Regions from separate parts of the Homo sapiens genome. Here region 1 is linked to region 2. A link means that fine-mapping ties the variant in region 2 to the expression of a gene that starts in the linked region. Tissue or cell type: whole blood. Region 2 holds a variant in brackets; the other region holds the start of a gene. All regions are shown on one strand. Distances are between the middles of the regions.

The links. PIP is the estimated chance that this variant, and not a neighbour inherited with it, causes the effect.
Region 1: ZDHHC23 starts here. The variant in region 2 is fine-mapped to the expression of ZDHHC23 in whole blood (TOPMed, PIP 0.94).

Annotation. Positions count from the first base shown.
Region 1 is chr3:113,944,589-113,949,886 of GRCh38, reverse strand. ZDHHC23 (zDHHC palmitoyltransferase 23) reads right to left here and starts at 1,874. Exons shown (of 5, transcript NM_001320466.2): 1 at 1,697-1,874; 2 at 924-1,201. The coding sequence starts at 1,084. GRAMD1C (GRAM domain containing 1C) reads right to left here. Exons shown (of 18, transcript NM_017577.5): 18 at 2,713-4,489. The coding sequence ends at 4,409. RefSeq lists silencers at 1,292-1,391, 1,742-2,241 and an enhancer at 1,956-2,456.
Region 2 is chr3:114,089,997-114,097,982 of GRCh38, reverse strand. No RefSeq gene overlaps it. Among named protein-coding and RNA genes, the nearest start is that of QTRT2, 37 kb to the right of the region's middle. The variant C/T (reference allele first, on the strand shown) is at 3,488.

The sequences.
Region 1 (5,298 bases), 150 kb after region 2:
CTGTCAAGTAAGAACGACAAAGGGTTCACTGGGTTTTTAATAGTCAAGGCTGGTACTAGACTGCAGACCCCAGGGAATGCTTTTCATGGCTGTATTAATGTATCAAGTTCTAAGTCAACAAATTGGCAGTTGCAATGACTTTTTTAACCAGAAATAATTATTAATGGGAAAAGCAAGTTTCCAACATCCCTATCCTTCCCACATTATGACTTCCATTGACAGTGATTTTTAAATATATAATTACTCAGAAAATGGATTAAAACCAGATTATTCACTGTCCGACACCAAATTTTTTCAGTGATGTTAAAAATTCTCTTTTTGGATAGTAATTTCCATCACTTGGAAAATAAAAGCCAAATACAGTATGATCAATCAAGAGTGTTGCTGGTCGCACTGAAAACTGTGAATCCAGGGGAGATACATGCCTTCTGGCTGGAGTTCCTCCCCAGAAACAAGGGGCAAGACCAGTACTAACAGCAGGAAAATGAAATTTCAACCCACAAGGCCCTCTGTGGTCAGGTGCCACCCAGTCCCAAGTAGTCAGTCTCTAAATGCTGAGACCTCTGAGAAGGCAGGAACTTTCTGGAACTATTGTGTTCATTTTAAACTTACAGATTCTGCTGGCTTGCATTTTATTTTATACTAACTTGCCTACTATCCCTTTAAACTGCCTGTTCTCTCCCTCATCTCTCTTTAAACGAAAAATAATATCCTATAAAACAGAGCAGACAGACAGCTGTGCACTACTGCGTAATCCATCTTTCTAAAATCCTCACACTTGACACAGAAGCCAACTCTCATTTTAGATGCTTGGAAATAGAATCAAGAGCAAATTCTAGCATTCTGGGTGGCTAGGTTGAAAGTACACATGGCAGTTCTCAGAAGGGTGATGGGGCCAGCGTCAAGAAATGCTCTGTTCTTACCGATCACACCCTTCATCCAGATCTTGACAATCACACAAACAAGTAGCCACGTGGTTCTTTTCCCCATTCCGATCTATGTACTCGCAGCAGCACAGGGGCTCCAATTCAGGTTCTTCGGTTTTCTTTTTCTTCACAGGCTTCATACTGCCCTTCTGTGTCATGATTTGCACCTGTCACCATGAGGCGTAAGAAGCCCTCAGAAGGTAAAGGTGGAAAGAACACAACTTACATCTCGTAAATAGGTCCACGCCTCTCTCTCTCTGCTTAACCTCCAACGCCTGAGCAATCAAAAATGAGAAGAGAGAGGGGGAGGGGGTCCCGTTTTCATCAGGCTTCTGTGGCTCCGCCTGGCCACACAGGGGGCTCCAGGGTTCTTGGAGGTCTGAGCTGCCTTCACCGCCCCTTCCCAGCCTGGGCAGGCGCCGTCTGGGCACCAGCCGTTCCTATGGCGACAGCCGACCACGCGTCCGGGACAGCCGGGGCGCGGGCGGTTGCGCTCACCTGCGGGTGCAGGCTGGGAGGGCCGAGCGGTCTCCGCTCCAAGCCTGGGCGCTGGTGGGAACTCAGCCTCGGGGCTATAGGGAAAGGCGAAGCATATGCCCGCTAGCAGCGGCTGACACACCAGGCTCCCTGGCAGTGCTCAGGGGTCGCGGTCCAGCCCAACTGGTCGGGCCCCTTGCAGGGTGCGCCTCTCCCGCCCCCGCCAATCCGGAGGACGTGGGCGGGCCTCGCGCACCACCCCGCCAGGAGAATGACCTTGGAAGGGAAGTTACCTGCCCTCTGGCCGGAGGTGCAACTGCAGCCAAAGAGGCGGAGGGGAGATGGGTCGGCTTCCCCGGAGGCACAGACGCGTCTCCCGATCTCTGCTACGCGGAGCCCCGGGCGTGACGGCAGGAGTCTCCGGGACCCGGGCTCCGCTCGGCCGCTCCCTCGCCGCAGCCGCCCACCTGTGACCACAGCCCGCCGCGGCCCGGGCGGCGCGCCCGCCTCCCCGCGCCGTCCCAACCGCCCCTCCGCCCGCCCGGCTCGGTGCGCCAGGTCCACGCGCGCTTCCGGGTGCCCCGCCCCCGGCGCCGGGGTTCCCCGCCTGTCCGCACGTGCGCCGCCCGCCTCCCCGCGGTGCCCGCGGGCGAGGCTCCTCCTCCTGGCCCGCGGCCCTGGCGCCGGGAAGGGGAAAATCGGCTCCCGAGAGCGCGTCCAGGAGGCAGGGGCAGGAGGTGGGTCCCGCACCTCCGGCCTGCCCCGCCACGCCACGCCCCGCCCCGCCCCAGAGGCGGCAGCCGGGCGCCGCCGGTGCCTGCGGGCGGCGCGCCGGTGGGACAGCCTCCGGAGCCCCGGGGTGCGGACGAGGTGCGGAGACGGAAATACGGGAAACCCGGGAACCCGGAGGATTTCCGAACTACGTGAGACCGTGGAGCCGCCAGCCTTCATTCAGACTCCGGCAACAGGCGGTGAGGGAGCTTTCCACCGCAAAATGTTATCCAAGTACCTCCCCCAGTTTCGCTGACCTTCTCTTAAAGGCCCATCACTGCTGCCGGATCTGTTCATTTAGCAACCTGTTCGTTTCATGATTTCTGGCTAGCAGCCTTTACATTGGACCAGCAGGCCTCGCTAGTACTTTTGTTCCAGTCGTCTGTGTATTTGAGATGAAACTGCCCTGAGATGAGAGTCCTTTTTGGGTTTTATTATTGCACAAAATTTCTTTAAAGAGTGTGGGCCCATGTACACGTTTCACTACCGCAGGCTTTCTAGTTTTGTTTTTAAGTAGAAAAAGAAGAAAAACTACAACTCAGAAATTTTCAATTTTATTAATATTCAATTTACGTAACAGGCTCAAATTTTATTAATTGAATTCTGCATCCATACGAATTTAGTCTTAATTTATAAAGCAACTTACTTCGATACTCTTCCTTGAAGTATGTTATAAAATACAACGTTTAAATAAACATCACAAAAATATTGTTTGTCGATCATTTTTGTGACTTTAACAGAGAAATCTTCAAGTTTATAATCCACTCATTCTTGCTTACAGCCAGACACTACATAAATCCTTACCAAAACAAAACAAACCCAGGTAGGTTCACTGTTACCCCTAGGTATGCTTCGTTGGAATTCACCCAGAGAAACCCATTTTCCCTCTAACGGAGTCAATACTTTCATTCTCTACAGGCATCTCAAAAATGACTATAATAATGCCATGTGGCTTTGGGGACTCTGGAGAAAAATGAAACATTTAATTAAAGGCAATAGTTGTTCAAACAGTAAGAATGTATACACAGTTTATATATAGATAGATAGATGGATATGTATTTTTTCCCCAGAGAAAGGGCTCAAGAGACAAAACAGTAAAACACTTCAACTTTCCCTAACTCTTGAAAAAATATCTGATTTTAAGTCAGTTTACAAAGTTCTTATTTTAATGAGCCACTTGTATGGAGACACATATGCATAAAAACTTTTTATGAAAGAGCCAAAGCTTGCATCTGAGTTAAAACTTGATAGTCAGTACACTTGTACTGGGACATACGTGCCCCTGAAGTTTTTATTAAAGAGCTAAAATCTATGTCTGGCTTATAACTTACCAATCAAAACAAGTCACACACATACATAAAGAAGGAAGCCATACATGGTTACTGAAAATACACAAATTATTTTCAACCAGATGTGTCACTTCCACCATGAAAGACTGCTAAGCTGAAGCCAATCTTAGTTCAAGTATGCATTTGATCTGTCACTAAATGCCCAGATTTTAACATAACCTTCTGGTTTTTAAAACTCAGAGGATGGTTCTTCCTTTTGACTGTTGGTATTCTAAGTGAGGAGGCAAGATAATCCCACCTCTGATAGTTACCTTAAGAAAAAACAACTATTTCTTTCATAAAGATACAGCATGGCAGAAGACCCTTTCTGATAATCATCATCAACATGCAGATTCAAAAAGTTTGACTATTAAATTTGCATGCTAAATAAATGAAGACATTATAATCTTTACAGTACACAAACCTGGAAATGTTATATGCCTGAAAACAGAACCTTTAAAATCAGTAATGACATAGAGGTTTCTTCTTATATTGTCCTGTTTATCCTCTTGGTCTTATCTCAGTTACAAAAGCGACCTATTGGACATGTACGGATTCTGTGCTAACAAAGCATCAGACTTCACTGTAGAAATGAGACCATACCACTCAATTCAGGGTGTGTCATTTTCTTTTTGTATCAGAGAAATTCAGTTCTATAATATATTTCATGGTTCACTGAAGAAATTCACAGCTTAAAAATATCTATAAGAAGTGAAAGGATGGATTATTAAGGCCAGCAGAAACTAATTATCAAATAAATGTTACTGAAAGAAATGTTCATATTAGAAATCTCAATAATGAAAAAACATAGAAATGTTCTATGCCAAAATCCTTCATTCGTCTGGTTTTCTTCCAGGTATTTTCTTTAAGTTCCAAGTATCTCTGCGGTTTTAGTCCTTCAGATCACTAGCTTTCAACAGCCATGCCAGTCTTATTCTTATTTAGTAGATCAAACGTTTTCTGAAGCATAATGAGTGAGCTCTTCAGCTGTAAACAAAGTTAATTTTCAAAATCAGATTAATTTTTCTAATCAGATTTGAAAATTTCTGTTTTTTATGCCCAAAATTTACAGTGACACTTAATATAGTTTTGTTTATACTGATGCCCAAATAAAACGTTAAATACAAAATACCTGATTCTTTGGGGTATCTATCAGTATGATTGCTACAGAGTTCTTCCCATTTGCTGGAGTATTGTACTTCTTCCTACTGCTACATAGTCTACCTCCCAATAGGTCCATTAATCAAATTAAGCGTAGTGACAGACTCGTTTTCCTAAAAGATTTCTGAAGTTGCAGTGGTCTCCTCACTATCCCCTAAACAACTCAAGTTTGCTTCAGTGCCTTTGCATGCTCTCATCCTCATGTTCTTCACCTAAAACTTACTCATATTCACACTCTTCATGTAGTTTTCCCCAGTCATTCTGCCTATAAACTCCCAAAGCATTATCCTTACTACTTAACACTTTGACACTGAATTTTGTAATCTTTGTCATTAACAATACACCTGGACATCTCATTTCTCTAAGAAAATTGTGTGCAACTCAAGAGCAGGAATTATGTCTTACTCTTTTTTTGTATTCATTCAACAAATATTTGTTGCTTGCCTATCACATGTTGGGCAGTGTTCTAAGCACTGGATATACAATGGAGAACCAAATAGGCACTGTCCTGTCCTTCATGGAGCTTACAGACTAGTCAGGGATCCAGAACTATTAATAAAACAAATAATCACATACATAAATATATACTTAGATATTTTATTAAGTTTTTGACTTGAGCAGCTGGTGGATGGTAG
Region 2 (7,986 bases):
GAGAAACCCCATCTCTACTAAAAATACAAAAAAAAAAAAATTAGCCAGGTGTGATGGCGCATGCTACTCGGGAGGCTGAGGCAGGAGAATTGCTTGAACCTGGGAGGCGGAGGTTGCGGTGAGCCGAGATCATGCCATTGCACTCCAGCCTGGGCAACAAGAGCAAAACTCTGTCTCAAAAGAAAAGAAAAGAAAAGAAAGAGAGAGAGGAAGGGAGGAAGGAAGGGAGGAAGGAAGGGAGGGAGGGAAGGAAAAAGAACACTCAAACAGAATTAATGTTGAGCTAATCAAGGCAGCTAAGAGGCAAATTCAACTCATTAATTTGGTCTGTAGTTCTTTCCTTAATAATGAGTAGATAATGAAATGTAAACCACTAACATTTTGATTTTCTTTACCCATAGATACTGTCATGTGGTGATTTTCCACCTTCTGTCATCTCTTAGTGAAACAGCCTTTGCAAAATTATGACAGTGGGAGAATTATGACAGTGCAAGATATCTGACCTAACTGACTCCATCTTGCTTCTAACCACCAAGCTGCCCCTGTTCATTCTTGGGCATGAGGCTGAACTAACTTTGGGAGAAACTTAGTTTATAGTTTAACTTTAAAACAAAGATAATAACAGCCCTTTCCCAAAACAAACCCTCTTCTCGCTTGGGGACCAGGCTGCCTTTGTAAGACTAACTAGCCACAAGATTAGAAATTATGGTTTAGGAGTCATGCGGCTAGACACCACAAGATTCTAAACCTCCCCAGTTGCTCCTAGGGATAACATCACTATCATAAAACGTAAGACTGGTGCTCATGATATTTTGCAGACCTTGTGCTCTGATGCACCAACTGGTGCCACCCAGACCAGTAATCTGGCTCAACCAGCACTGCAATCCCACCTAGGAGCAGGAGACAGTAAGACGAATCCACTTTGACCCCATATGATTTCATCTCTGACCCAACCAATCAGCGACCCCCACTCCCTGGTCCCCTACCTGCCAGATTATCCTTTAAAAACCCGAGTCTCCAAATTTTGGGGGAGACTGATTTGAGTAACAGAACTCTGGTCTCCATTTAGCAGGCTCTGCATGAATTAAACTCTTTCTCTATTCCAATTCCCCTGTCTTAAATCAGCTCTCTCTGGGCAGTGGGCAAGGAGAACCCATTGGGTGGTTACATTAGGTTGGACTTTGATTTGACAGACTACATGAGTAAAGTGAAGCTTTCTAACTCTATGTAGAATATACGTAATTTTGGAGTTTGCTCCTGGTCTATAAATTGCGAGAAGGCAAGTAGGGTTTTTGTCATTTAATCCAGTGTCTGGAGAGCACTTGACACTTAGTTGGCAGTGGATTAATCTTTCTTGACTAGGTGAATAAATGAATTCTAAGTATCAGAGAATTAGGATGGGGAAGACATACACAAATGAGCAAAATCCTTGGTACCAATATATTGGGAAGTCCCTGATTAAGATTGGGTTGTATGTGCTTATCGGCTGGGACAAATTCCATAGACTATCAAGGACCTGTGAGAAAAAGACAGGATCTCCTGATGAGGCCCTGGAAGATGCTCACTTCCTCCCCTCTTCTGATAAAAACCAGCAACCAACAAAAATTATTAAAGTATAATTATAGGAGGGGCATAGGCCAGGGAGGGAATTATAAATGGCATAATATATTGGAAAGGGCTTGGTCTATATATCTTTCTGAGCTGGGTTTGAGACATCTTTTTCCAAATTCCATTATATCCACAGTCATAATAACGAAGTCTCCTAAAATGTATCTACAAACAGAATGGTCTCTGTGTTCAAGAATCACTGTTATCCCAGCAGCCAGAAAGGCTATAGTCACTGTCAGAGTAGCAATAATAATGTCTGTACCACACCTAGTTTGTGAGGTACAAGTTACCAACGAGGCTGAATAGAGGCAGAACAAGAGATAAGGACTCAGAGAAGAATTGGGGTGGAAAAGGAAACCTAGACTCTAGTTCTAGCCTTGCCTCTCATTTCCTGTTGGACCTTGGGTTAGTCACACACTGTCTGGGCCTGGGTTCTGCCTCTGTCAAATGAAGGGGTTGGATAGATAATTTGTAACATTCCTTCTGGCTCTAAAATCATACACTATGTGTTACCAAAGAAGCTTCTTTCTGACAAAGAGAAAGACTAAGCTATTTTTTTCCCTTTCTACGATTTAAACGTCCTTTTGCTTTTCATTTATATGCGAATGTATGAGATTTTAACCAAAACAAAATTAGCATCTCTGGGTCACTCCTCAGCCCTCTTATCATTAAAATGTAGTTCAGATTTCTGAGACCACAAATAGAAAGAGGAATAGTTAATAAGTTATCCCAACTTACCAGTCCTTAATACCACGGAGTAATTATGGGGGTAGCCCAGAGGGCAAATAGGAGAGGTTCAGAGTACACAAAAGTTCAGTTTGGGATAGGCCTCCACCTATTTTTTTTTTTTTTTTTTTTTTGAGGCGGAGTCTCACTCTGTCGCCCAGGCTGGAGTGCAGTGGCGCAATCTTGGCTCACTGCAAGCTCCACCTCCCGGGTTCATGCCATTCTCCCGGCTCAGCCTCCAAAGTAGCTGGGACTACAGGCGCCCGCCACCACGCCCGGCTAATTTTGTTTTTGTATTTTTAGTAGAGATGGGGTTTCACCGTGTTAGCCAGGATGGTCTCGATCTCCTGACCTTGCGATCCGCCCGCTTCGGCCTCCCAAAGTGCTGGGATTACAGGCGTGAGCCACCGCGCCCAGCTGCCTCCACCTACTTTTGGTCGTTGTTCTTGAAGGAGAGCAGATGCTCTGCATAAGAAAAACACAATTTAGGAAGGTCCGGGGTAAAATGGGGAAAATCCTGGGCTTTTGAGTCATAGTGCTGAGTTCAGAGTTCAAATCCTGGATCCCTTGCTTTGTGTCTTTTTTTTTTTGAGACAGTCTTGCTCTGTTACTGAGGCTGGGGTTCATTGCTCACTGCAGCCTCAAACTCCTTGGCTCGAGTGATCGTCCCTCCTTGGTTTCCAGAGTAGCCAGGACTACAGGTGTGTACCACCATGCCCAGCTAGTTATTTTTTATTTTTTGTAGAGATAGGGGTCTTGCTTTGTTGCCCAGGCTTGTCTCACACTCCTGGCCCCAAGTGATCCTCCCACTTTGGCCTCTCAAAGTGCTGGAACTAAGGCATGAGCCATCACACCCAGCCCAATTTCTCCTCTGTAAATTGGAAAAGATAATGTCAACCTCAGAGGGTTGCCATGAGCAATAAAGAAGGTAATGGATGGATCACGAAGTCAGGAGATCGAGAGCATCGTGGTTAACACGGTGAAACCCTGTCTCTACTAAAAAAAAAAAAAATACAAAAAATTAGCCGGGCATGGTATCATGCACCTGTGGTTCCAGCTACTCGGGAGGCTGAGGCAGGAGAATCACTTGAATCTAGGAGGCGGAGGTTCCAGTGAGCCGGGAACACCACTGCACTCCAGCCTGGCAACAGAG[C/T]GAGACTCCATCTTAAAAAAATAAAAATAAAAATAAAAAAGAAGGTAATGGATAAGGCACAGACAGAATTGAACAAATTATAATGAAAAAAGAAACGGATAAAGTGATGTGTTAAAGATGGAGAAGTAGAGAACATACTACAGACACATGATGAGAAGAAAATTAATCACACATTCTCCCTTAATTTCAGTGGGGCAGGGGTGAGGGTGCAGACACGGCAAATGCTGAGGGATTATCTTTCCCTTACAGAGCTGATAGTCTGGTTGGAAGATGAGGCTCACAGAACTGAAGCACTGATTAAATCAGATGCCTAGAGCACTGGTTGCTGGTGCCTTTATGAACAAAGGAAATCAGAATAGAAGCCTCTCCTCTTCCAATCTTGAGACTCTAGAATTCTAGAAAAGCAAGTTTTTATGGAAGGTTTGGTTCTTGGGCTGGACCTTGAGAATGGGTAGGATTAGGATATAACCACTTAGGAAAAGTGGAAAAGTCCACGGCAATTGGTTAGGTTCAGATTATGGCGGCCCTAGAAATTCAGGCTGCCAGTTTAGCCTTGGTACAGCAGGAAGAGAGTGGAGTTGAGGAGGACAAGGAGGAGGTGAGGGGCAGGATGGGTGGTAATCTTCCTTGAGTCAGGCTTTAACTGCCTCCTCTGAGTCAGTCACCAAGTCTTGCTGATCCTCCTTGAAATGCCTTATACCCATCCCTTCTATGTATTACTTCATTCATCCAAGGAGTAAGGTTTCCAGCTGATTTGGCTGGAAGCCAGGTGCAAGGAAGTTGAAGTGCAGAACTAGTCTGACTGAAGGAAGATAGTAAATTTGGTTTTAGACACGTTGGATTTGTGGCAACAGGTGAATGTTTAGGTGGAAAAAATATAAAGTGGAACTGACTTTTTCAACATGACTGAACTTTCTACAAAAAACAATGTAAAACTGGAGAGTCTAACCAAAATCAGTTCAAGTGTAAAAAAGAAAAAATTGGACATACTTTGTCACTCTCTTGTCTTTTGAAGTGCAGTTACTATGTGGGAATGGAGTACATTTCCAGTTGGTATTTTCAGCTAGCATTGTGGGGGAACAATAAATAGAATTGTGATGGAAATGTTATTTAAGTTTTGTTGAACTAAAAAATAAATGAGTAGAAAATGGAAAATGCTGGAAAATGTGAGTAAATATTTTAGCTTTTTGGGGGTGTGGAAAACTCATATCCGTTATGTAATTGGATTCTGTGAATGGATTTATGACAAAAATAAATGATTCTGGGAGAGTTCAAAGAAAATATTTTAACTATTTGGAAGGAAAACAGAGCCTCGGAGGGGAGAACAGCTTCCCATCTGTCCATAAAAATTAGAGGAAAATTTCACCAGACCACTGAGCTTGCTATGGTCAGTCTCGAGGGCTAATCAACAAAGGAGAATTCTGAAGATGCACACACACCCTGTTTCTCAATTATTGGAGTATCCCTCACCTCCTCTCCTTTTGATTTCTCTCCCCTTACTTTTATGTCCTTCTTCTTGTGCCTTTTTGATAGCAACTCTAAAGCAGTGGTTATGAAATGGTTATACAACTTTTATTTGAGGCTGAAAGAGATGATTACGTGGTTTGGGAGGGAAAAGGAAAAGGACTGAATAAAAGGAAGTGACTGTAAGCTGTTAAGAAAGAGAAGACTGTTAATAGCAACATCTTGATGTTAAGAGACAAGCTGAAACCATCCAAGGCAGGCAGAGAACAAGGTGATAATAAGAGAAAATGTGTTTCGCAGACAAAGGAGCCGACAGCAGGCGAGAGCAGTTCAGGGAGAGAGGTGAGCATTAGGAATAGTGTGCGGAAAGGAGGCACGGATCCCTCTGAATCACACTGGGAAGCATCGGCCGTTTGAACTCCTTGGCAACTCCGACCTGATCTCAAAGTAGATTGTGAGGAATGAGAACAAAAGGAAAGTTCACTCTGAGTTCCTCTTGTCAGAGCAGGGGAAATTGCTTTGAGGCCAGCACTGAAAGATGATAATGGTACCAAGTAACAGAAAAAAAAAATCCGAAAAACCAAAAATGTGTCAGGTCACCGGGAGCTTGCCTAGCATAAAGTGACATAAAACCACCACTGACATTCTCATAGGTCCTACCACATAGTGTTGTGCAAGTCACTTCTAACCAGCACTCAGTTGGCCAAAATAAGGAAGAGAATGCCTCAACTACTCAGAATATTCGTTCACTTGACAAACAGTAATTGAGATTTCACGGTGTCATCCAGGACTATTGCTATTAATGCTGGAAGGTGCAATAGGAGCTCTTATCTTATGTCCTGTACCAGCTGGTCCTGTGAGGCCAGAAGGAACCACTGGAAAGTGAATACTGGGAAATCGATGCTGACCCTAGAAGGGCACAGGCCCGGCAGAAAATAGGTGGTGAGATTTAGGAGTGCCAAAATGCTAACTAGAAAGAACTGTGTGCATGTTTAAATTCCTTGTTATGGACTGAATGTTTGTGTCCCCACAAAATGTTTACGTTGAAGGCTGGGCGTGGTGGCTCAAGCCTGTAATCCCAGCACTTTGAGAGGCCTCAAGGCGGGTGGATCACGAGGTCAGGAGTTTGAGACCAGCCTGACCAACATGGTGAAACCCCGTCTCTATTAAGAATACAAAAATTAGCTGGACGAGGTGGCGGGCACCTGTAATCCCAGCTATTCAGGAGGCTGAGCCAGGAGAATCGCTTGAACCCAGGAGGCAGAGTTTGCAGTGAACTGAGATCGCGCCACTGCACTCCAGCCAGGGTAACAGAGTGAGACTCCATCTCAAAAAAAAAAAAAGTTTATGTTTAAATCCCAACCCCAATGTGATGGTATTCAGAGGTGGGGCCTTTGGAAGGTAATTTAGATCATGAGGGTGGAGTCCTCATGAGTGGGATTAGTGCCCTTATAAAAGAGACTCCAGGGTGCTCTCTACCCTTCTTTCCACCATGTGGAGACATGGAAAGACAAGAGCAGTCTGCGACCAGGGAGAGGGCCCCTACTAGAATTCAACCATGCTGGCTCCCTCATCTCAGACTTCCAGCCTCCAGAACTGTGAAAAATAAATTTCTTCTGTTTTAAGCCACCCAGTCTATGGTATTTTGTTATAGCAGCTTGAACTAAGACACTCCCAAGAGGAAAGACACAGCCAACTGCTAGTCTTTCTTCTCTAGGCTTAAAATTTCTCATCCATAAAATAGGTTAAATAAGATCCTGAATACCTTCCCTTTCGGCAGAGTTAGAATGGTTCTAGGAGTTATCTGGGGATCCTGCAATGGAGATGGGACAACATGGGCTCTCTTTTTTGTTGTTATTTTTGAGACAGAGTCTCACTCTGTTGCCCAGGCCAGAGTGCAGTGGCACGATGTTGGCTCACTGCAACCTCCACCTCTTGGGTTCAAGTGATTTTCCAACCTCAGCCTCCCGAGTAGCTGGGACTACAAGCACGTGCCATCACACCCGGCTAATTTTTGTATTTTTAGTAGAGACAGGATTTTGCCACATTGGCCAGGCTGGTCTCAAACTCCTGACCTCAGGTGATCCACCCACCTTGGCCTCCCAAAGTGCTGGGATTATAGGCATGAGCCAGCGCACGGGGCGCCAACTGTTAATCTTTCTTCTCCAGGCTTAAAATTCCTCCTGCATAAAATAGGTTGAATAAGATGCTGCATACCTTCCCTTCTGGCAGATTTAGAATGGTTCTGGGAGTTATCTGGTGACCCTGCAAAGGAGATGGGACAACATGGGCTCTCTTAATGTGGGAATCTAAACAGCTGCAGGAACTAGAAACTACAGGTATGTTTTCTGTATATTGCAATCAGTTGTTGAGAAATTTTTAAATGCTAAAGATACCAAAGCCCTTCTTCCAGATTTTAAGCTAGAGGTTGCAAACTAGGCACCCCCATGTTTTGTTTGGCTAGCAGAATATTGTTTAAAAATTGACCCAGCATTTAAAAATTGTGAAATTTCACCTGAAAATCCAGATTTTTGGCTTCTCCTGAAAGACTGAAATATCTGGCAGCACCGGAGCCACAGCAGCAATTAGCTGGAGGTGGGTATCAGCTGTCCCATTTAGCTGGAACACCTGTTCTCTAGTTTGATCATCTCTACCCCTCACATTAGGGTGACCATTTAACTTGGCCAGCACTTTTGAGAATAAAAGGTGGTGGAGGCGGGGGCAGGATGCTGTGTATTTATACCTGAACTAGGGGCATGAAGCAGGATTTTCGGGAGGAAGAGTGCACGATTATGCTAATTCACATTGCTTACACTGGCTTGTTTCATTCTTTGCCCACTGTTATTTGGGTTTTGTGCTCACAAATCAGGGAACCTCGTGAAGAAGCAAGGAAAGAAAAGGTGTAAATTACTAAGAGACACAAAGGTTGAAAAGAAAGTGAAGAGATTAAAAAGGATATTTAAATGAATGCCAATTATACCAAACTTTTAGGTAAAGGCAGAGCCTTGCTGGTGGCTGGCTCAGCATGGAAGTTT